Regions from separate parts of the Homo sapiens genome. Here regions 2, 3 and 4 are each linked to region 1. The links come from fine-mapping of genetic effects on gene expression. A gene starts in region 1. Each other region holds a variant in brackets. All regions are shown on one strand. Distances are from middle to middle.

Region 1 (5,153 bases):
AGAAAAGGTTCTGGAGGAATTTTACTTTAATACAAATTAAACACCAGTGGCAGAATCATAAACATTTTCAAACTAATATAGATTAGAAAGGATGGCATTTGGGGATTATTATTTTTATAATCAGAAGGGCTTGAGAAAAAGTTTGCGGAAAATAAATACGTTTCAACATTTTTCTCTGATAATTCATTTTGACAACTACTGTGTTCATTTTGATAACTACTATATCACTTTATAAATGATGAAACTATTTCAAATGTAATGACTGTACTTTTCACAGTTTGTATGCCTATAATTTATGCAATGCCACACAATCAACCAAACAACTCTTAACTTTATTTTTACTTCAGTGTATTATTTAGAAATGATATAAGGAGGCCAGCCGCGTTGGCTCGTGCCTGTAATCCCAGCACTTTGGGAGGCCAAGGCGGGCAGATCACGAGGTCAGGAGATCCAGCCATCCTGGCTGAAACCCAACTCTACTAAAAAATAAATAAATAAATAAATAAAATTAGCCGGGCATGGCGGCATGCGCCTGTAGTCCCAGCTACTCGGGAGTCTGAGGCAGGAGAATGGCCTGAACCCGAGAGGCGGAGCTTGCAGTGAGCCGAGATCACGCCACTGCACTCCAGCCTGGGTGACAGAGCGAGACTCTGTCTCAAAAAAAAAAAAAAAAAGAAATCATATAAGGAAAAAAAGCCCTACAGTTTACTTTCTGGTTCTTGGTTATTATCAAAGGGCATTGGAAGGTTAAGCTGCTGTAATAGCTTTAAAAGGGGAATTTAAGGCCGGGCGCGGTGGCTCACACCTGTAATCCCAGCACTTTGGGAGGCCGAGGTGGGCAGATCACGAGGTCAAGAGACTGAGACCAGCCTGGCCAACATGATGAAACCCTGTCTCTACTAAAAATACAAAAATTAGCTGGTCGTGGTGGTGCGCATCTGTAGTCCCAGCTACTCAGGAGCCTGAGGCACAAGAATCACTTGAACCTGGGAGGTGGAGGTTGCAGTGAGCCAAGATTGTGCCACTGCACTCAAGCCTGGTGACAGAGCGAGACTCCATCTCAAAAAAAAAAAAAAAAAAAAAAAAGTGGAATTTAGTTAAGTTTGGGAGACAGAAAGAAGCCACGGCTCTCCTGCCTTCTTCCAAATATACTGAACTTCTGATATGTTTGATCAAATGAAATGCTCATGGTCTGGCATGATTATAGGTGCAAGCCTGTAATCCCAGCTACTAGGGAGGCTGAGGCAGGAGGATGACCTGAGCCCAGGAGTTTGAGGCTACAGTGCACAATGATTGTGCCTGTGAATAGCCACTGCACTCCACCTTGGGTGATATAGTGAGACCCACATCTCTACACACACACACACACACACACACACACACACACACACGAAGAAGAACATAAACACATCAAATGTGAGCCATTTTGCTGACTTGGGCATACAATAAATCCATATCTCTGGGTTCTAAAGATGTACCAATCTTGCAGTGAGCTGAGATCACACTACTGCACTCCAGCCTGGTCAACACAGCAAGACTCTGTCTCAAAAAAAAAAAAAAAAATAGTAGACCAGGCGCAGTGGCACACTCCTGTAATCCCAGCACTTTGGGAGGCCAAGGCGGGCGGATCACTTGAAGCCAGGAGTTCAAGACCCACCTGGCCAACATGGCGAAACCCCGTCTCTACTAAAAATACAAAAATTCACCAGGTGTGGTGGTGCATTCCTGTAATTCCAGCTACTCAGGAGGCTGAGGCAGGAGAATCACTTGAACCCAGGAGGCTACGGTTGCAGTGAGCCAAGATTGTGCCACTGCACTCCGGCCTGGGCAACAGAGCGAGACTCCATCTCAATAAATAAATAAATAAATAAATAAATAAAATAAAGATGTGCCAATCAAACAAGTGTTTGCTCTGTAGATGAGGTGAGTGCTCCTGATCAGATAGTATATTCAATAAAATAAGCATGTCATCAAACTAACTTTCTTGGCCTTTGTTCTTTGGTTGAAAAACTCCCGTTGACCTCATGAATACCACATTTATTAACCCCGGAAGACAACAGATAGCTAATGCAACATAAATATCTGTGGCTTTAAAAATACATATTATTATGTGTGCAGTCTACAAACACTTTCCTGAAATTGGTCTTCTGTGGGCAGTGATTTAAACTTTTCAACTTGGACGCTTTTCCTACTGGGGGCTGTAAAGATGATAACTCAGCCCTTACTCTTCAGTGTTTCTCATTCCCGTCTCCCCTACTTCGGAATGAAACACAATATCTTAAGCAAACAGAGCCCAAAGAGGCTGATCATTGGCTCTCATTGTCCCCTGATACTGTAGCCCCGCCCCTTTGGCTTGTGCTGACTAGCTGTTTATATTTTAGTAAGGGCCACCCTTTAACTCGGCAGCTTGATGACTATAATGGGCCCAGTTGTCTGCGGGCTGCGGGGAGCTAAGTCCCCAGATTGGAGGAGGCTGGCTCTGGTCTTCGATGCACAGGAGTGGCCGTTATGGAACGCAGGTAAGGACGCTTCTCAATGTGGGATAATTCTTTTTCTGGGCCAGCTGGTTAATCCGGGGCTGGGAGAAACAAGTTGTGATTGGGTTGCTACTTTTTCCTGGTTTTAATTTTTTCCCTGCAGAAGAGGGAAGGAAAAGACTGGGATTTGCTGACAAAGCTCACAGTGAGCTCTGTTAATCCAGGCAGGAAGGGAGTAAGGAAGCAAAAAATCGAGGGAGAGACACAGCTGGATTTGACACCAAAGCAACATGAATGTGGCAAAGCATAAGGCCAGTTCCAGTGATGTTGTGAGACTCAAATGCTGTTTTATTTCCTAACATAGGTAGTCACAGTCAGGAGCTTAGCTGGGCCTCTCCGGGGTTTCTGTAAGCCAGCTGCTAGCCGATGTAACTCAGTCGACCCCATTTGAAAGGACCTAATATCTGCTAGTATTTTCAAAGGGCAAACTGTAGTAGTCTTGCATGTTATAAATAGGTCTATTCAGAAATGTGGGAACAGTTTAGAGCAGACAGGAGACTGTAAAGTTTTACTGCCCCATAAAAGTGCTCAAAGGGTACTATGTCCCTCTGCCGTGCGACTGTGGAATGAAGAAATAGCCCCAGGTGAATAGAGCGTTTGTCCTTGACTACCCAAGTGAGAAGTCAGCAGAGCCTGGGGACGCCATGTGAGTCGGGGGTGAAGCCTGATGTGGGCTCAGCCAGCCACACCTCGGGGTGCTTGCTGGTTTCCGGGGTGTGAATGGGTGAGGGTGGAAAACCACTCAGGCACCGGTCTTTGGTGCCTGCTTTATCTCTTGGCTGGCCCATTCGGTGCTCAGTGAGGCACCTGTCGTAGCTCACGGGGTGCGCAAAGGGCAAGGAAAGGGTTGTGCTGTCATTGCGACCTGTAAGGTGGGGAGGGGGCTACAACATCTCGAGTCCTGGGAGTTGCTTTAGAAAGTCCTCCTCCTCCTGCTGAAAAAAAGAATCACCTACGGCAGCTTTGATCAGATAAGTTTCTGGTGAGCCCCGTGGTGTGGAGTCAGTGAACTTGCGGTTTGTGTTTGTTATCGACAGGAGCCTGATAAAATGAAAAGGTGAGGTTTAATTTTTACATAAAGCTAGAGGTGAACCATGGGACTTTAATACATTTAATGCTTTGAAAGTCTCCCCACCTCTCCAAATTCCCTCAACTTGTATCTATTATCTAGGTACACCTTGTTTAAAGCCACCATGCTGTTTGCGGATCCTGGAGGTATTAAGTCAGAATACAAAGGGTGTTTTTCAAATGAATTTGACGCCAAGCAACATGAATGCTTGAACCCATTGTATGAAAACAGGCAGTCTCTAAGTGAGGCCAGGTTCTCCTGGTGCGGTCCTAGAGCCCTGGAGAGGGATGAGTCACCCCACGAGGAGGTCCTGACAAGGAATGGAAATTCTGACTCTGCCAGTGAACTTTTGACTCTCCCAGGTGGGGTGGAGGCTCCAAAGGGAAAGGACAGGTGTGCATCATTCACCCTCCAGGCCCACCGCAGGCCTCACAAATCCCATTTGGTCAGGTCAATGCATTCTCACCTTCCCACCTAAGTAGGTGTCCCACAGTTTAACTCAATTCTGACACTAACTGCAGTGAGTGCAGACCCTGAGGTTTAAGGGCTCAGTCCTACCAGGCTGCCCCGACCTCAGAGGCCAGTTGCAGGCTGAAGGTTGTCACTTGTGCTTCTGACTAGCTGGCTATCCATGAGAAGTTCTCACGATCCTTCCTCAGGTAGATTACAAGCTGTGTAACTTTGTCTAACTTTGTGCTGTAAGTCAGAGATTGACTTCTTGGGGTCACTGTTTTGTTAGCATAGCTCACGGAACTCAGGGAGACACTTAATTCCATTTACCAGTTTATTATAAAGGGTATTACAAAGGATACAGTTGAATGAATACATACAGCCAGGTGAAGAGATGGCTAGGGAGGGTCTTGGAGCTTTCATGTCCTCTCCGGGCGCCACTCTCCCAGCGTCTCCATGTGTTCAGCTATCCAGAAGCCCTCCAGACCCGCTCCTTTGGGTTTTTATGGAGGCCTCATTACAAAGGCATGATTGATCAAACCATTGGCCATCGGTGATTGAGTCAACCTCCTGCCCCTCTTTGCTCCCTGGAAACAGGGTCAGGGGGTGTGTATGGGTGGAGTAGGGAGAAAGGGGCTGAAAGTTCCAACTCTCTAATCACTTGCTTGGTTCCCCTGGCAACCAGCCCCCTCCAGAGGCAATCTGGGAGCCCTCAGTCGTCAATCATCTCATTAGCATACAAAAAGGCTCTTTATCACTTTGTACATTCCAAGGGGTTTTCTTTCTTTCTTTTTTAAATTTGAGACAGGGTCTTGCTCCGTCACCCAGGCTGGAGTGCAGTGGCATGATCATGGCTCACTGCAGCCTTGACCCCTTGGGCTCAAGCGATCCTCCAGATCCTCCCGCCTCAGCCTACCAAAGTGCTGGGATTACAGGTGCATGCCCCCATGCCCAGCCAATTGCAAGGATTTTAAGAACTATGTGCCAGGAAGCAGAGACAAGACCAAATATATATTTCTTATTATAAATCACAATATCACACCTTCCTCATGATTCACACTTCAGGTCACTTACTCACTGTGTAACTCTGTGCAAGT
Region 2 (5,153 bases), 83 kb after region 1:
TACTTTTAATTTAATGAAGCCTAATTTCTCTATTTTTTTCTTTTGTTGCTTGTGCTTTTGGTGTCATAGCTTAGAATCCATTGCTGATTCAAGGTCATGAAAATTCACCCCTGTTTCCTTCTAAGATTTTTATAGTTTTAGCTTACATTTAGGTCTTTTATGTATCTTGAGTTAATTTTTGTATGTGGTTTGAAGGAAGGGTTAAATTTCATTCTTGTACATGTGAATTTCTAGTTACCTCAGCATAATATGTTGAAAAGGCAATTTTTCCCATTGAGCTGTGTTGACACCCTTGTCAAGAATCAATTGACCATGGATGTATGGGCTTCTTTCTGTACTTTCCATCTTATTCCATTGATCTATATGCCTATTCTCATGCCAGTACTACATTGTTTTGATTACTGTAGCATTATAGTCAGTTTTGAAATTGGTAACTATGAGTCCTCCAATTTTGTTCTTTTTCAAGATTGTTTTGGCTATTTAGTAGTTTTCAGTATTCAAGTCTTGCACTTCCTTGGTTCAATTTATTCCCAACTATGTTATATTCTTTTTGATAATATTGTAAATGGATTTTTTTAAAAAAATAGAGATAGGTCTCACTATTTTGGCCAGCCTGGTCTTGGGGCAAGCAATCCTCCTGCCTCAGCCTCCCAAAGTCCTGGGATTACAGGCATGAGCCACCATGCCTAGCTGGGAATTGTTTTCTTAATTTCACTTTTGGATTATTCATTGTTAGTGTTTAGAGATACAACTGATTTTTGTTTGTTAATCTTGTATCCTGCAACTTTGCTGAATTCATTTATTAGCTCTAATTGTGTGAATGTGTGTGCGTGTGTGTGTGTGTGTGTGTATTCTTTAGGATTTTCTGTATATAAGATCATGTCATCTCTGTATAGAGAAATTCTTAATTCTTCCTTTCCAATTTGGATGCATTTTATTTCTTTTTCTTGCCTAAATGCCCTGGTCAGCACCTTCAGTACACCGTTGACTAGAAGTGATAAGAGTGAATATCCTCTTGTTCTTGATTAAGTATGATGTTAGCTGTGGGTTTTTTGTAGATGCTCTTTATTAGGAGGAGGAAGTTCCCTTCTGTTTCTAGTTTGGCATGAAAAGATATTGGATTTTGTTAAATGCTTTTCCCACATTAATTCAGATGATAATGAGTTTTTTCTTTCATTCTATTAATGTGATGTATTACATACAGTAATTTGTCTAGGTAAGCCACCCTTGCATTCCTGGGATAAATCCCACCTGCTCATGATATATAATCTCTTTAATATACAGCTGGATTCAGTTTGCTAGCATTTTATTAAGAATTTTTTCATCCATATTTATAAGGGTTATTGGTCTGTAATTTTCTTGTGGTATCTTTGGCTTTGGTATCAGGGAAATACTGGCCTAATAGAATGAGTTAGGAAGTATTACCCCTCAATCTCTTCTATTTTTTTTTAAGAGTTTAAGGAAGATTGGTGTTAGTTCTTCTTAAAATATTTGGTTGAATTCACCAGTGAAGCCATCTGGTCCTGGGCTTTTCTGTGTTGGAAGTTTCCTGATTATTGATTCAATCTCCTTACATATTACAGGTCTATTCAGACTTTGTATTTCTTCATGTCAGTTTTGATAGTTTGTGTGTTTTTAGGAATTTGTCCATTTCATCTAAGTTATTCAATGTGTTAGCATAAAACTATCCACAGTATTCTGTTATAATCCTTTTTATTTCTATGATGTCAGTAGTAATTTCCCCACCACTTTCCTTCCTGATTTTTGTAATTTGAGTCTTCTTTCTCTCTTCTCCCACACCACCCCTGCCACACACACACACCCACCACCCCGCACCCCCCCACCATCTCACTCTCTCTCTCTCTCTGGTCAGTCTAACTAAAGTTTTATCAATTTTATAATATCCTTTCTGTCAATTATATACTATCCAACTTTTGTCTTAAGTCTATTTTTTCTGATATTAGAATAGCCACTCTAGCTCCCTTTTGGTTACAGTTTGCATGAAATATTTTTTTCATTCTTTCACTTTCTTTTTTTTCTTTTCCTTTTTCTCTCTCTCTTTTTTTAAGAGATGGTCTTGCTCTGTTTCCCAGGCTGGAGTACAGTGGCATGATCATAGCTCACTGCAGCCTCATAATCTTGGGTTCAATT[G/C]ATATTCCTGCCTCAGCCTCCTGAAGGCCAGGACTACAGGCACACGCCACTATGCTCAGCTAATTTTTGTATTTTTTTAATAGACAGGGTCTCTCACTATGTTTTTCAAGCTGGTCTTGACCTCCTGGACTCAAGCAATCCTCCTGCCTCTGTCTCCCAAAGTACTGGGATTACAGGCATGAGCCACCATATCTGGGCCATCCTGTCACTTTCAACCTATTTGAGTCTCTGAATCTAAAATTAGTCTCTTATAGAGAGCATATAGTTGGATTATGTTTTCAATCCAATCTGCCAGTATCAGCCCTTTGATTGGAGAGTTTAATCCATTTAAATTAATTAACTTAATTACTGAAAAGAAAGGCTTTCTTTCCTTTTGCCATTTACTATTCTTTTTCTGTATGGCATATCTTTTTGTTCCTCTATTCCTCCATTACTGCCTTCTTTTATGTTTAATAGATATTTTCTAGTGAACCATTTTGATTCCCTTCTCATTTCTTTTACTATACATATTTTTATTTTTCTTTATTGTTTGCCCTGAGGGTTATAATTAACATTTTAGCTTATAATGATTTAATTCAAATTAATACCAACATAATTTCAATAGTATGTAAAATCCTTGCTTCTTTTAGCTTGTATTTATATGTTGTATGCTCAGCTACATAGGTTTGTAATTATAGATTATGCTGTTTTATGCAGTTTTATTTTATGTCATGTAGGAGTTAGAAAACTAAAATACATTAATACTGACCTTTATATTTATCTGTGTAGTTACCTTTACCTGCTTTCCTTGTTTTTTTCATGTGGACCCAGGTTACTTTGTAGTGTATCAAATCAGGTCAGCTTGCAGGAATCCCTTTGGCATGACTTGTAGGGAAGGTATACTAGCAACAGACACTCAGTTTTTGTATTTCTGGTAATGTGTTAATTTTTCCTTCATGTTTGAAGGATAGTTTTGCCAGATAAAAAATTATTAGTTGTCAGGTTTATTTTTTTTTCAGCAGTTTGAATATATTACCCCATTGATTTCTGGCCTCTATAGTTTCTGATGAGATATCTGCTATTAAAAAATCTGCAGCCGGGCATGGTGGCTCGCACCTGTAATCCCAATAATTTGGGAGGCTGAGGCAGGCGGATCACCTGAGGTCAGGAGTTTGAGACCAGCCTGGCCAACATGGTGAAACCTTGTCTCTACTAAAAATACAAAAATTAGCCAGGGATGGTGGCGCGCACCTGTAATCCCAGCTACTCAGGAGGCTGAGACAGGAGAATCGCTTGAACTTGGGAGCCAGAGGTTGCAGTGAGCCAAGATTGAGCCACTGCACTCCAGCCTGGGTGACAGAGTGAGACTCATCTTAGAAAAAAGAAAAAAAATCTGCTTATGGAATATTTCTTATACAAGATGAGTCACCTCTGTCTTGCTGCTTTCAAGATTCTCTCTTTGTTTTTGTCTTTTTATGGTTTGGTTATACTGTTTCCTGGTTTGGATGTCTTTGAGTTTCCTGTTTGGAGTTTATTAAGTTTTTTGGATGTGTAGATTTGTGTCTTTTATCAAATTTGGGAAGTTTCCAGCCATTACTTTTGCAAATATCGGTTCTTTCCCTTTCTCTCTTCCTCTCCTCTGGGACTCTCATTAGGTATATTTGGTACACTTGATGGTGTCCCACGGGCCTCTTAGGTTTTGTTACTTTTTCTTCCTTTTTTTTTTTTCCTGCCTCACAGACTGTATAATCTCAATAGGCCCATCTTCAAGTTAACCTTCTTCTTCCTGCTTGAATTTTCTGTGGAACTTTTCTAGTGAATTTTTCATTGCAGTTATATTTTTTAACCCTACAATATTTCTATTTGGCTTTTAAAAAATAATTCTTATCTCTCTATTAATATTCTCCATTTAGTGAGACATTGTTCTCATAGTTTTTTATATATGGTTTCCATTAGCTCTGTGAGCATATATGAAAGAGTTAAAGTCAAGTAAGTCCAATCTGGGCTTCTTTAGGGAGAGTGCCTATAAATTTCTTTTATTCCTCTTTGTGAACTTTGTCCTTTTTTGTGTGCTTCACTTTTTTCCATTGGAAACTGAACATTTAAAGTACTATATTGTGGCAACTCTGGAAATCAGAGTCTCCCCTCTCCCTAGGGTTTTTTGTTGATGATTATTATAGTTTTTTGCTGTTGTTGTTTGGTGACTTTTCTAAACTAATTATTTTATATTTTTTTCGTTCCCCACTTTTATTATCCAATGCAACTAATTTTGTAAAGTTTGTATGTTTTGTCATATGTGGCTAATGAAGTCTGTTCCAGTAGATTAGCTACCAACCAGTGACCTGACATAGATTTTCTTATGCTGCTGTTTTCAGTAACATCACTTCCCTGTAATCATTTAAAAATATGAATTAAAAAGAAGGATAATAATAGTAATGGATGCTGATCTTTTTTCATACATGATGAACTCTGGTCTTGAGGATTTTTTACATTTTTCGCGACTCTATATTATTTTGCATCCTTTTCTGTCTTCCAATGAGTATTCTTTGTCATCTCGTTTCTTATACTGCTGGGGAACTTCAACTCAGACCACAAAATGCAACAAATATGATATAGTATTTGCAACTTCTAAATGCAATGTGCACACTGATTCCCAAGTAAAATTTGCCATTGATCTAGACCCATTCTAGACATGAGGCCATGCTCCCTTCTTCCAGTGAAGATGTGGGAACTCAGTCCCAGGCTAGATTGGTTTGGGAAGAGTGCCATTGGATTGACTAAGCACTGTTAATGTGGCATATTCCCTCAGTCCATACACTTATATTTGCCCCAACACCCGAAATAACCTGAGGGAAGAAGTCTTTTCACATTCTGTTTTTGGGCTGTCCTCTGGTACATGTGACTGGCAGTGACAACCTGCTTTAAAGAGACCTCCTGAGCACTGACCATGAAGATGAAATATTAGTAAATGCTATTCTAGTTATATATAATCTAGAAATAAAATGTCTGGTAAAAGTAAACCA
Region 3 (5,153 bases), 30 kb after region 1:
AAAGGAAATGCTCATTGGAGCATTTCGGATTTCAGTCTTTTGGATTGCGGATGCTCAACCAGTCAGTATCTGCACATATTCCAAAATATGAAAAAAAACCAAAATCCAAAAATACTTCCGGCCCCAAGCATTAGGATAAAAGATACTCAACTTGTAGTATTTCCAAATACAGTCACAATCTGAGGTACTGGGAGACATCAATATATCTTTTTGGAGGGAGGGGGACACAATTCAACTCTAACAGCCACCTTTAAAGAGTCATGAGTAGCCAGGCGAGGTGGCTGACGCCTGTAATCCCAGCACTTTGGGAGGCCGAGGCAGGCAGATGGATCGAGACCAGCCTGGCCAACATGGTGAAACCCCGTCTCTACTAAAAATACAAAAATTAGCTGGTCGTGGTGGCGCACGCCTGTAGTCCCAGCTACTTGGCAGGCTGAGGCAGAAGAATCGTTTGAACCTGGGAGGCAGAGGTTGCAGTGAGCCAAGATCATGCCACTGCGCTCCAGCCTGGTGACAGAGTGAGGCTGCATCTCAAAACAATAAATAAATAATAAATTTTCAAAAATAAAAAAAATTGAGTCGTGACCAGCACAGTGAGAGGCAAAGAGGTGTTTTAGTGAGAGTGGACTGACCCCAGCATGCAGAATATGCTGGAAGGAAGGGAGGGAACTAGAGGCCATAGGTTGGGGCGGGGGTGGAGAAAAGTAGATAAAATCAAGACACATTTCAAAGGAAGAGTTGAAAAGATTTAAGTAGTAGCAATGGTAATGTGTCGTTAAGTCTAGAACATAACAGTTTACAGAACATTCCCATGTCTCCTTTCTCCTTTGTACCTGACTTAGGGGCTGAGTGGTGTCTTCAGGGTTTCTGGCCCTGGGAGAGAAGCTCCAGTGATAAGGTCAGCCACTCCAGTGAGAGTGGCTAGCAAAGGCAGCAGGGGGAGACTCAGAGCTGCAGGTGCTGAATTGGAGGTGGTGACAGAGCCGGGTGGAGCTGTCCCCTGGGCCACTGGAAACCTAAGCCAGCTGCCCCCTCTCTAGACATAGATTTGGAAGTCAAATGCATTCCAGCAGTCATCTAATCACAAGAGTGGGTGCGGCCTCTGAGTGAGTGAATGTAGGAGAAGAGCAGTGGCTTGATGTTTTGGCAAATTCCCGGAGTTAGAAGATTGCTAAGAATAAGGATAAGAAGCATTTAAAGTAGAGGAGAAATGGTAAAGTTCTCTACTTCCAAAGCCAAAGAAAAAGAGTTTCCAGTAGAAGGTGGGAGGAGAAGAGGGACGACTGGGAGAAGACTTTGGTTTAGCTAAAATGAGGACATGGGGAAAAGAAAGTGCCAAAGAAAGGAAGGAAGGAAGTCAGATGATAATTACAGGGTGGCAGGATTTAGAAAATGGTGTGGGGGGTTTTTATTGGAAAGTTGTGGGGTTTTCTTTTTGAGATATTGATTACTTTACTTACAGTCAAATTCACCTTTTCTGATGTTCAATTCTGTGAATTTTGACAAATGAATATAGTTCTGTAACCATGACTACTGTTGAGATAGGACCAATTATATCACCCCCAAAATTCTTTGTTGCTGAGGTGCTTTTTTGTTTTTTTAGAGGAAACCAATGTGTATTTGAAGTCAGAAAGGAAGAAACCCATGGGAAAGGAGGAGATGATGGTGTTAAAGAGGAAAGGGTTGAAGGAGTGAGGCGTGGAGGTGGTAGGGAGGCAGGTGGGCCACTGAGAATGCTTCAATTTTGGTGGGAAGGAACATTTCCTCTCTTCCTATGAAGTAGAAGGAAGGATGGATGCATACATTCAGGGTCTATGATATCTTTTTATGGTTAATTCCAAAACTCCTGCCAGCAAAACCATTTCCTGCTGAGAGAGATGTTAAATGTTGCATTGCATAATTTCTGCCACGGAGGTATGATTTCCTGTTGCAATCACTGTTTGCAGGAATTACATGCAAGGGGAGTACAGGCACCGGGCTGCTTTGCTTTGGGATATGTGCCCAAATCCTGCTCTAATGTAATACCATAGCAATTTTAGAACTAACAACTTTAAAATTCTTCAAAGTTAAGTGCATCTGCATCTTTTCCTGCACCATACAGTGAGAAAGCTTGGCAGCAATAATGGCTTCAATCCCCATAAATACTCCTGACAGGTGTAAATGAGTCACTGCGGAAGAGCTAGCTTCCACAGACATGTCCTTGGGGCATTATTTGGCAGAAGAGATTGAATTCTCATCATTTTATGCTCAAGACTCACAACCACTCAGAAGTGCAGTTTTCTCCTTGACATCTATGATGTTGCTTGCATCTCCCTTTATCCTTGCAGTCACACTGTGATTCAGGGGTGGGAGGAAAGAAGGTGTTGGATAGCGATTCTCAAACTGTGGGCTTCATGAGCGGGTTGTGAATCAAGTTAGTGAGTTGCAGCCAGTTTACTGAAAAATGAAATAGAATAGGAAATAGCAGAGGGCATCGGGCTAAATGTGATCTCATGCAACCTTTGTTTCAGTGAAATATATGTATCTATTACTGGACTGCAACATAAAATACATTTCTGCTGCGGATCTCAGTCACAAAAGTTTGGAAACTGAATGTAGAAGTATGCAGATCCTTTATGACCCTAGGCAGGCTACTGAATGTCCTTGTGGCTTAGAGTCATTGTCTGTAAAATGAGGCTCATAAGTTACCTACTCTGTATGGCTGTTGAGAGTGTTAAACAGAAAATGCATAGGTAGCATTAGGTGCTGTGCCTGGTTAACAGTCAATGCTTGTGATGATGATTTGTTTTCCTGCCTAGATCTATAGGTCAAATTTTTATTCAATGCCCAGACCTTTCTTCTGAGCCTAGAACTATAACTCAGCAGCTATTTGACATCTCCAGGCAGTTGTTCTACATGCATCTCCAACTCAGCATGTCCAAAGTGGAACTCAATTAATTGCCACTTTCTCTCTCCAATTCTTAACCTTCCCCGTGCCCTGTCCCACCCTCGAGCACACAGACCCCTCTGCTGCCCCCAGCTGTGTACTTCATATGTGGTGCTTCCAAACTGCTTCTAGTTGGTCTTCCTCCACTAACACACATATGTCTTCAG[G/C]TTTCCTCTGCCTTGAATGCTTGTTCCACTTTTTTGTTGTATGACTCACTCTTTCCCATCCTTCAGGGCTTAATACAAATTGGTTTTCCAGTCAGAAAGATGTAGGCTTGAAGTCACTAATCATTGGTGACAGCTGTGTGACTCTGAGAAGCAAATTTCTGAAGCACTCAAAGTCAGTTTGTTCCTCTGTAAAATGGGAAAAGCTGTGCCTGCTTCATAGAGTTAAGATAATTTTTTTTTTTTTTGAGACAAGGTCTTGCTCTGTTGCCCAGGTTGGAGTGCAGTGGCATGATCACGGCTCACTACAGCCTTGACCTCCCGAGCTCAAGGAATTCTCCTGCCTCAGCCTCCCAAGTAGCTGGGACTACAGGCAGGCACAACCATGCCTGCCTAATTTTTTGTATTTTTCATAGAGATGAGGTTTCACCATGTTGCCCAGGCTGGTCTCGAACTCCTCAACTTAAGTGATCCACCTGCCTCAGCCTCCCAAAGTGCTGGGATTACAGGTGTGAGCCATGGTGCCCCGCCAAGTTAAGAGAATTAAATGAATTCTTGTGTGTATAGAATAGTACCCAGCACATACAGAGTAGTTAATAAATGGCTGTGATTCTTTTTCATTTTTAAAGAAGGCTCAATTCACCTCTTTCTAGAGCTTCTTACAGACCTGAATGTGTCAGGTTGTTGAAGAGCTTTGCAGTTTTGCACCAGCTATTCCTTCTGATCAGATTACCTTTTCCACACTTCTTCCTTTGACCAAGCCCTACTCCTCCCTCAAGGCTCAACCCAAGTGTCACCTCCTCCGGGACCCTGCCAACATCCTGTGCTCACCTCCATCAGAATTCTTGACCACCTAAACTATGATTACCTTCTTTCCCCCTAGATTCTAAGTCTCCTGAGGGCTCCATGTGACATGTGTCGTGGGAGGGATCCGGTGGGGATCAAATCATGGGGGCAGTTTCCCCCATGCTGTACTCATGATTGTGAGAGAGTTCTCTTGAGATCTGATGGTTTTATAAGCATCTCGCATTTCTCCTGCTTGCACTCATTCTCCCTCCTGCCACCCTGTGAAGAGGTGCCTTCTGCCATGATTGTAAGTTTACTGAGGCCTTCCCAGTCCTGCAGAACTGTGAGTCAATTAAACCTTTTTTTTCTTTATAAATTACCCAGTGTCGGGTATTTCTTCATAGCAGCATGGGAATGCATGGATACAGTTAAGGCCATCCCCAACATGGCTTCTATTGCATGTTCTAGCCTTTTCTTCTACTTATCCTCACCTTGTACCTCATACCATGGAAAACTAGGCTCCTTACTCCCTCACTGTGCCCCATACCTCATTTCCTTGTATGCCTATTCATGCTGGCTCTTTCTGTTTAGCCCCACAAACCCACTAAAGCCCTCTCAAATGCTACCACATGACAATTCTAGAACCTTTAGTGATCTACTTTTTTTAAACAAACAGTAGTAGTTGTCCTCAATTCTGCTTTGCATCCCACAGCAACCCACTATGGACTTTTCTTGTGGAGAAGATTGTCCTTTATACAGCAGTTTCTTTACATACTTGTTTTTTTATGGCAAGTTGTTTGAGTCTGAGGATTGTGTCTTTTTCTTTTCTTTTCTTTTCTTTTCTTTTTCCTTTCTTTTCTTTTCTCTTGAGACAGGGTCTCACTCTTGTCACCTTGGCTGGAGTGCAGTGGTACAATCACAGCTCACTGCAGCCTCGACCTCCTGGGTTCAAGAGATCCTCCCAACTCAGCCTCCTCAGTAGCTGGGACTATAGGTGTGTACCACCATACCTGGCTAATTTTTAAATTTTTGGTAGAGATGGGGGTCTCACTATGTTGCCTAGGCCTGGTCTCAAACTCCTAGGCTTAAGCAATCCTCCTGCCTGGGCCTCCCAAAGTGCTCATGTAATATGCATGAGCCACCTCGCACAGCCAGAGGATTATGTCTTAAACATCTTTGTAAACTTACAGTATCAAGGACATTACATTGCTTGTCTTTTCTCATAAGTGTTTGAGGAAACAAATAGAATTGAAAATCAGCTAGATTTGGTTGTGCTT
Region 4 (5,153 bases), 130 kb after region 1:
CATCTGTAATCCCAGCACTTTGGGAGGCCAAGGCGGGTGGATGACCTGAGGTCAGGAGTTTGAGACCAGCCTGGCCAACATGGCAAAACTGCGTCTCTACTAAAAATACAAAAATTAGCTGGGTGTGGTGGTGTGTGCCTGTAATCCCAGCTACTTGGGAGGCTGAGGCAGGAGAATCACTTGAACCCAGAAAGCGGAGGTTGCAGTGAGCCATGATCACACCATTGCACTCCAGCCTGGGTGACAAGAGTGAAATTTCGTCTCAAAAAAAAAAAAAGAAAAACGAGCAAAAGGCATAAAGAGAAATTTTACTGAAGAGGATGTATACATAAAAAGATGTGCAATATCACTAGACATTAAGGAAGTACAAATTAAGACCATGGTGAGATATTACTGCACACTTATAAGGATAGCTAAAATTAAAAATATTAATAATGCCAAATGCTGGAGAGCATGTAGAGAAACCAGATCTCTCATGCATTGCTGGTAAAAATGCAAAACTACACAGTCAGCCTTGAAAATAGTTTGGTATTTCTTTAAAAACTAAACATATACTTACCATACAACCCATAAATTATACTCCTGGCTGTCTGTCCCAGAGAAGTGAAAACTTACGTCCACACAAAAACCTGTACATTGTTGTTCATAGAAGATTTATTTGTAATAGCCCAAAACTGAAAATAACCCAGATGTCTTTCAATAGGTTCATGATTAAACAAACTGGTATGTCTATACTATGGAATATGACTTGGCATTAAAACGGAACAGACTAATGATACACTCAACAACTCTGATGCATCTCAAGGGCATGATGCTGAGTGAAAAAAAGCCATTTTCAGAAGGTTACATACTATATGATTCTATTTGTGTACCATTCTCAAAAAAATAACAAAATTATAGAGAAGGAAAACAGATTAGTGGTTGGCAAGGATTAGAGATGTGAGGAAAGGGGAGTAAGTAGCAAGAGGGAGATCTTTATGTTGATGGGATAATTCTGTACGTTGGTTGCAGTGGTAAATCTACACACATGATAAAATGACATAAAACTGTACACACACAACCCAAAGTCAATGTATTGGGTTTTGTGTGGTACCATAATTATAGAAGATGTGACCATTGGAGGAAACTGAGTGAAGAGTACACAGGACCTTTCTCTACTATCTTTGCCACTTCCTATGAATCTATAATTATTTCAAAATAAAAATTTAACAGAAGTAACAAAGCAGAAACCGATAGACCAAAAGAAAGTGATTTCACATCCAAACATATAATCAGCCCCCCGTACCCCCAAATCTCACATTTGTGAATTCAACCAAATACAGATCAAAAATTTCAGGAAAAATAATTTGTTAAATACAATGATTAAAAATAATACGAATTGTAAAAATACATAATATTATTTACATTATATAGCATGCTCTAGGTATTAGAAGTAATCTAGAGATGATTTAAAATATATGGGGGGATGTGCACAGGTTAGGTGCAAATACTAGGCTATTTTATATAAAGGACTTGAGAATCTGAAGATTTTGGTATCAGTCTCCTGGGATACCAGGGGATGGCTTTACCTGTTGAACCATTGACTTCTTACAACCCACTCTTTTCTAAAAAGGAAAAAATAATTTCTACTGTCTCATTGCTATTATGACTCAGGAACATTCTTCCATCATCTAGTTGCTGATTTTTCCCCTTATAAGTGTGGGGGAGGAAAAGGATGTGAGGCTGGAAGTGGAATAAGTGAAGATTTAACATGAACAATAAGCTTCATTCATTTTTAAGCACCATCTAGGGCCCTTCCCACCCAATATTTGTTGTGACCACTATAGGAATACAAGTGAAAGCTAGCAGCCAATGGCATATTCTTCTCCACCACCTGGAAATAGATGGGGAGAGGAGAGAAAGCAAGGTAAGTGGAGAGTAGGATTATAGATATGATAGTGACATAAACAAAGACATATCCATAGATGGATAGATGATTACTTAAGTGCTTTTTTGTTTTGCTTTTTTTTTTTTCTGCTTTTTTTTTTTAAGAGACGGGGTCTCGCTATTTTGCTCAGGCTGTTCTTAAACTCCTGGCCTCAAGGGATCCTCCCACCTTCACCTACCAAAGTACTGGCATTACAGATATAAACCACTGCACCTGGCTTATGCTAATGTTTTAAATATAAAAGCATATATACTGGGCATGGTGGCTCATGGCTATTATCTTAGCACTTTGGGAGGCTGAATCAGGAGAATCGCTTGAGCCTACGAATTAAAGGTTACAGTAAGCTGTCTTCACACCACGGCACACCAGCCTGGGTGTCAGAGTGAGACCCTGTCAAAAAGAAAGAAAGAAACAGAAAAACATTAGCATCAAGAGTTTTCTAACCCATGTTCAGCATATTACTATAACTTCTCCTATAACATTCTGACTTCCTATTTGTTTACAGGTTTTTGATGGGAGTGGATCATTTTTGTCCTACATTAACACATCTGCTGACCCACTCTATGGCCCCCAAGGCCTGGCCCTAACTTCAGATGGTCATGTTGTGGTTGCAGACTCTGGAAATCACTGTTTCAAAGTCTATCGATACTTACAGTAATGGTGGGCAGGTGGATACCCGCTTCCATGGTCTTGCACTATAAACTGGAATGGATTTCTCAATGCGGGACCAGATTATGACTAGAGTTTTTATGCCAGAAGGAATCATTGGTGAACTTTCCAAGGTTATTTCTGAATGTAACAATTTCCTTAAAAATGACTTATCCAATTTCTGTATTTCACCTTTAGGGTTAAAAAAAACTCTTCTACTGAATCTATAAAAACTGCAGTTTTACATCTGTGAACTATGGCTTAAGGGACAGGATTTATGTAGCTAAACTAATTTTGCAAATCAAACAGACACT[T/TA]AAAAAACTAGCATATGTAAAGGTATTCGTTAATCCTGTGAATGGTAGCTTTTGCACAGAACTTCCAAAAGCAAAACAAAAACAAAATCTATTGTAGTTATATACTTCATTTAACCTAGGTCACAAGACCCAGGGAATCTTCTAACCTCACTTTTACAGTAGGTATTACTCTTGTGACATTTTTTTGGTTATCAACAACTAAATATAAATTACTTTGGAAAAAGTAAGGCTGTCTTGCAAAATGATCCCAGCTCTGATTAGCAGCCCTCTGGAGTTCAGAACTTAAGTATCAGTGCAAATTTCTCAACCTTTCTGGGTTAGACAAAGATCCTTTTTTGTGTGTTCTTTTCACCACCCCTTTGGCTCACCTTGTATCAGCAAACAAAGTACTTCTTCAGGGAAACCTGAAATTTCTAATGCCTTGAAAAGCATATTACAAAAGTAATGCTACCTTTTGGGAAACAAACTGCCCCGTTAACTCCAGATCATTGCACTGGAATGTAATCAAGAAAGTTAGTCATGTTTTATGTACCATGTTTTCACACGTGTCTCTTCTCTTCGACTTCCTGAAAGCGAAAGCTTTACCTCCTGCAAATGTCAGCACATGTAGTAGGACACCAGTATCCTAGGACAGAGAGCCATAAGTAGCCCTTTGGAGGACTGATGGTGTCAACCAAAGGCATGTGATTGATTAATGATTCCCCCTTAGAAAGCAAGTGTTACCAAAGTTGTGTTATCTTGAAAGCATTACAGGTAAGGGCATGTTATGGTTATTTATCATTGTTTAATGAATAGTAGAGGTGTCAAGGGACTATGTATACATGATTAGGGTAAGATAGAATGTATTATATATATATATATATACACACACACATATATATAGCTGAATCTTTGGTGTATTGAAATAGGCAGCACTCTGAAAGACAGAAGCTTCGTCCAGCCACTCTTCAGCACATTCCTTTACTAAGCAGTTTAAAGCCGTCCTAGTGGAGCAAGCCCTAAAGCAGATTTAATTTTTGCCATTTTCCAAGAATGACGGTGGTGGCTTTTAGTCAGAAAATGGCCTTCTGTGCTTTCAAAAAAAAAAACAAAAAAAAAACCACACACACACATAAAAAACCCAACAGGTCAAAATAAAAGTTGAACTTGAGTTACATTTAATTTAAATATAAATGCATTTTGAGAAATGTTAAGAACAATTTAGTCAATCGTTCATCTGTCATTGGTACTGTAAAATAAGCTGTGGTCTATTTCCACTGTTTAATTTTCTACTCAGTTCTACCAAATAGGATGTCATGTTTGACATTTTTGATAGTGACTTTGGGGTCTTCTTCACTGAAAGCACCTTAGAACTGTACTATAAGAAAACATTTCCCCTATGTATAATTATATGAATGTGATGTTTATTGCTTATTAATTTATAATTCAGTCATTCTCTATATAGGACTTCTTAAAATTTAGAAGGGAAATCTAGCTACTTCAAATTGTCTGTTAAATTTATTATGCCCAAATCAACCTCTGAAAAAAGGTTTTTCCAGGAAGATTTACATTTAGGTTTAATATTTTTTTAGTTAGGTAGAGTTTTAAAAAATACTTGAGCCTGTCCGTGATAAAGCTATAAAATTCAATAACTTTTTAGAATGTTAAATGAAGACACTGTTTCCTAACATCAGTGAGATACATCTTTGAATTTAAACATTCATATTTACTGAGTACCTACTAGGTACCAAGTACTCTTTTAGGCACTGGAAATACAGTGATGGACAAAACAGGTAAAAAATCGCTGCCCCCTCAGAGCTGACATTCTGGGGTGGGAATTTCATTTTGCCACGTACTAACGTTCTGCACAAAAGACAGGCTAGACTCTTGTCTAGATTGTTTAAAAGAAACTTTTCAAATTGGTTACATTAATTTTAGTTTATTTTCACAAGTAAAAATGGCTTTTTATTTAGATTCTTTCTGTCCCAGGCTGTTGATCTTAAAACTAGTTGATTTAAAGAGTTTTTTTGCACAACATTTCAATTATATTTGTGAACTTAGAAATTAACTTACAATCTAACCAGCCATCATATCATATCCTATCAGGCTAGATATCTCAATAGTAGACTGAATACAAAGCTAATTTTTTTTACATGTCAATATTGGCACAAACTGGAATGAAAGAATAGTTTGATTCAGACCTGCTCCACTATGTGTTGCTAAAACACATGCTATGAGCACTCCAGGAAACACTATATTTTTTCCAAAAAATATGTGATTATATA

Which allele goes with the higher level. Positions count from the first base shown, and alleles are read on the strand shown. Sizes are in standard deviations (SD) of each study's normalised expression. Not every link is listed here.
For the expression in esophagus mucosa of the gene that starts at base 2,402 in region 1, allele C in region 2 goes with a lower level than allele G (small effect, 0.25 SD a copy in GTEx).
For the expression in prefrontal cortex of the gene that starts at base 2,402 in region 1, allele TA in region 4 goes with a lower level than allele T (small effect, 0.27 SD a copy in ROSMAP).

Evidence for each region. PIP is the estimated chance that this variant, and not a neighbour inherited with it, causes the effect. A credible set is the group of variants that fine-mapping cannot tell apart.
Region 2: its variant is the best candidate, but not a certain one, in a credible set for the expression of TRIM2 in esophagus mucosa (GTEx, PIP 0.72).
Region 3: its variant is the best candidate, but not a certain one, in a credible set for the expression of TRIM2 in blood mononuclear cells (TOPMed, PIP 0.89).
Region 4: its variant is the best candidate, but not a certain one, in a credible set for the expression of TRIM2 in prefrontal cortex (ROSMAP, PIP 0.76).

The regions. Positions count from the first base shown.
Region 1 is chr4:153,202,042-153,207,194 of GRCh38, forward strand. TRIM2 (tripartite motif containing 2) reads left to right here and starts at 2,402. Exons shown (of 12, transcript NM_015271.5): 1 at 2,402-2,519. The coding sequence starts at 2,490. RefSeq lists an enhancer at 3,953-4,858.
Region 2 is chr4:153,284,931-153,290,083 of GRCh38, forward strand. All of the region lies in intron 3 of TRIM2 (tripartite motif containing 2), which reads left to right. Among named protein-coding and RNA genes, the nearest start is that of MND1, 57 kb to the right of the region's middle. The variant G/C (reference allele first, on the strand shown) is at 2,152.
Region 3 is chr4:153,231,965-153,237,117 of GRCh38, forward strand. All of the region lies in intron 1 of TRIM2 (tripartite motif containing 2), which reads left to right. Among named protein-coding and RNA genes, the nearest start is that of TRIM2, 30 kb to the left of the region's middle. The variant G/C (reference allele first, on the strand shown) is at 3,094.
Region 4 is chr4:153,332,382-153,337,534 of GRCh38, forward strand. TRIM2 (tripartite motif containing 2) reads left to right here. Exons shown (of 12, transcript NM_015271.5): 12 at 2,433-5,153. The coding sequence ends at 2,585. Among named protein-coding and RNA genes, the nearest start is that of MND1, 9.7 kb to the right of the region's middle. The variant T/TA (reference allele first, on the strand shown) is at 2,890.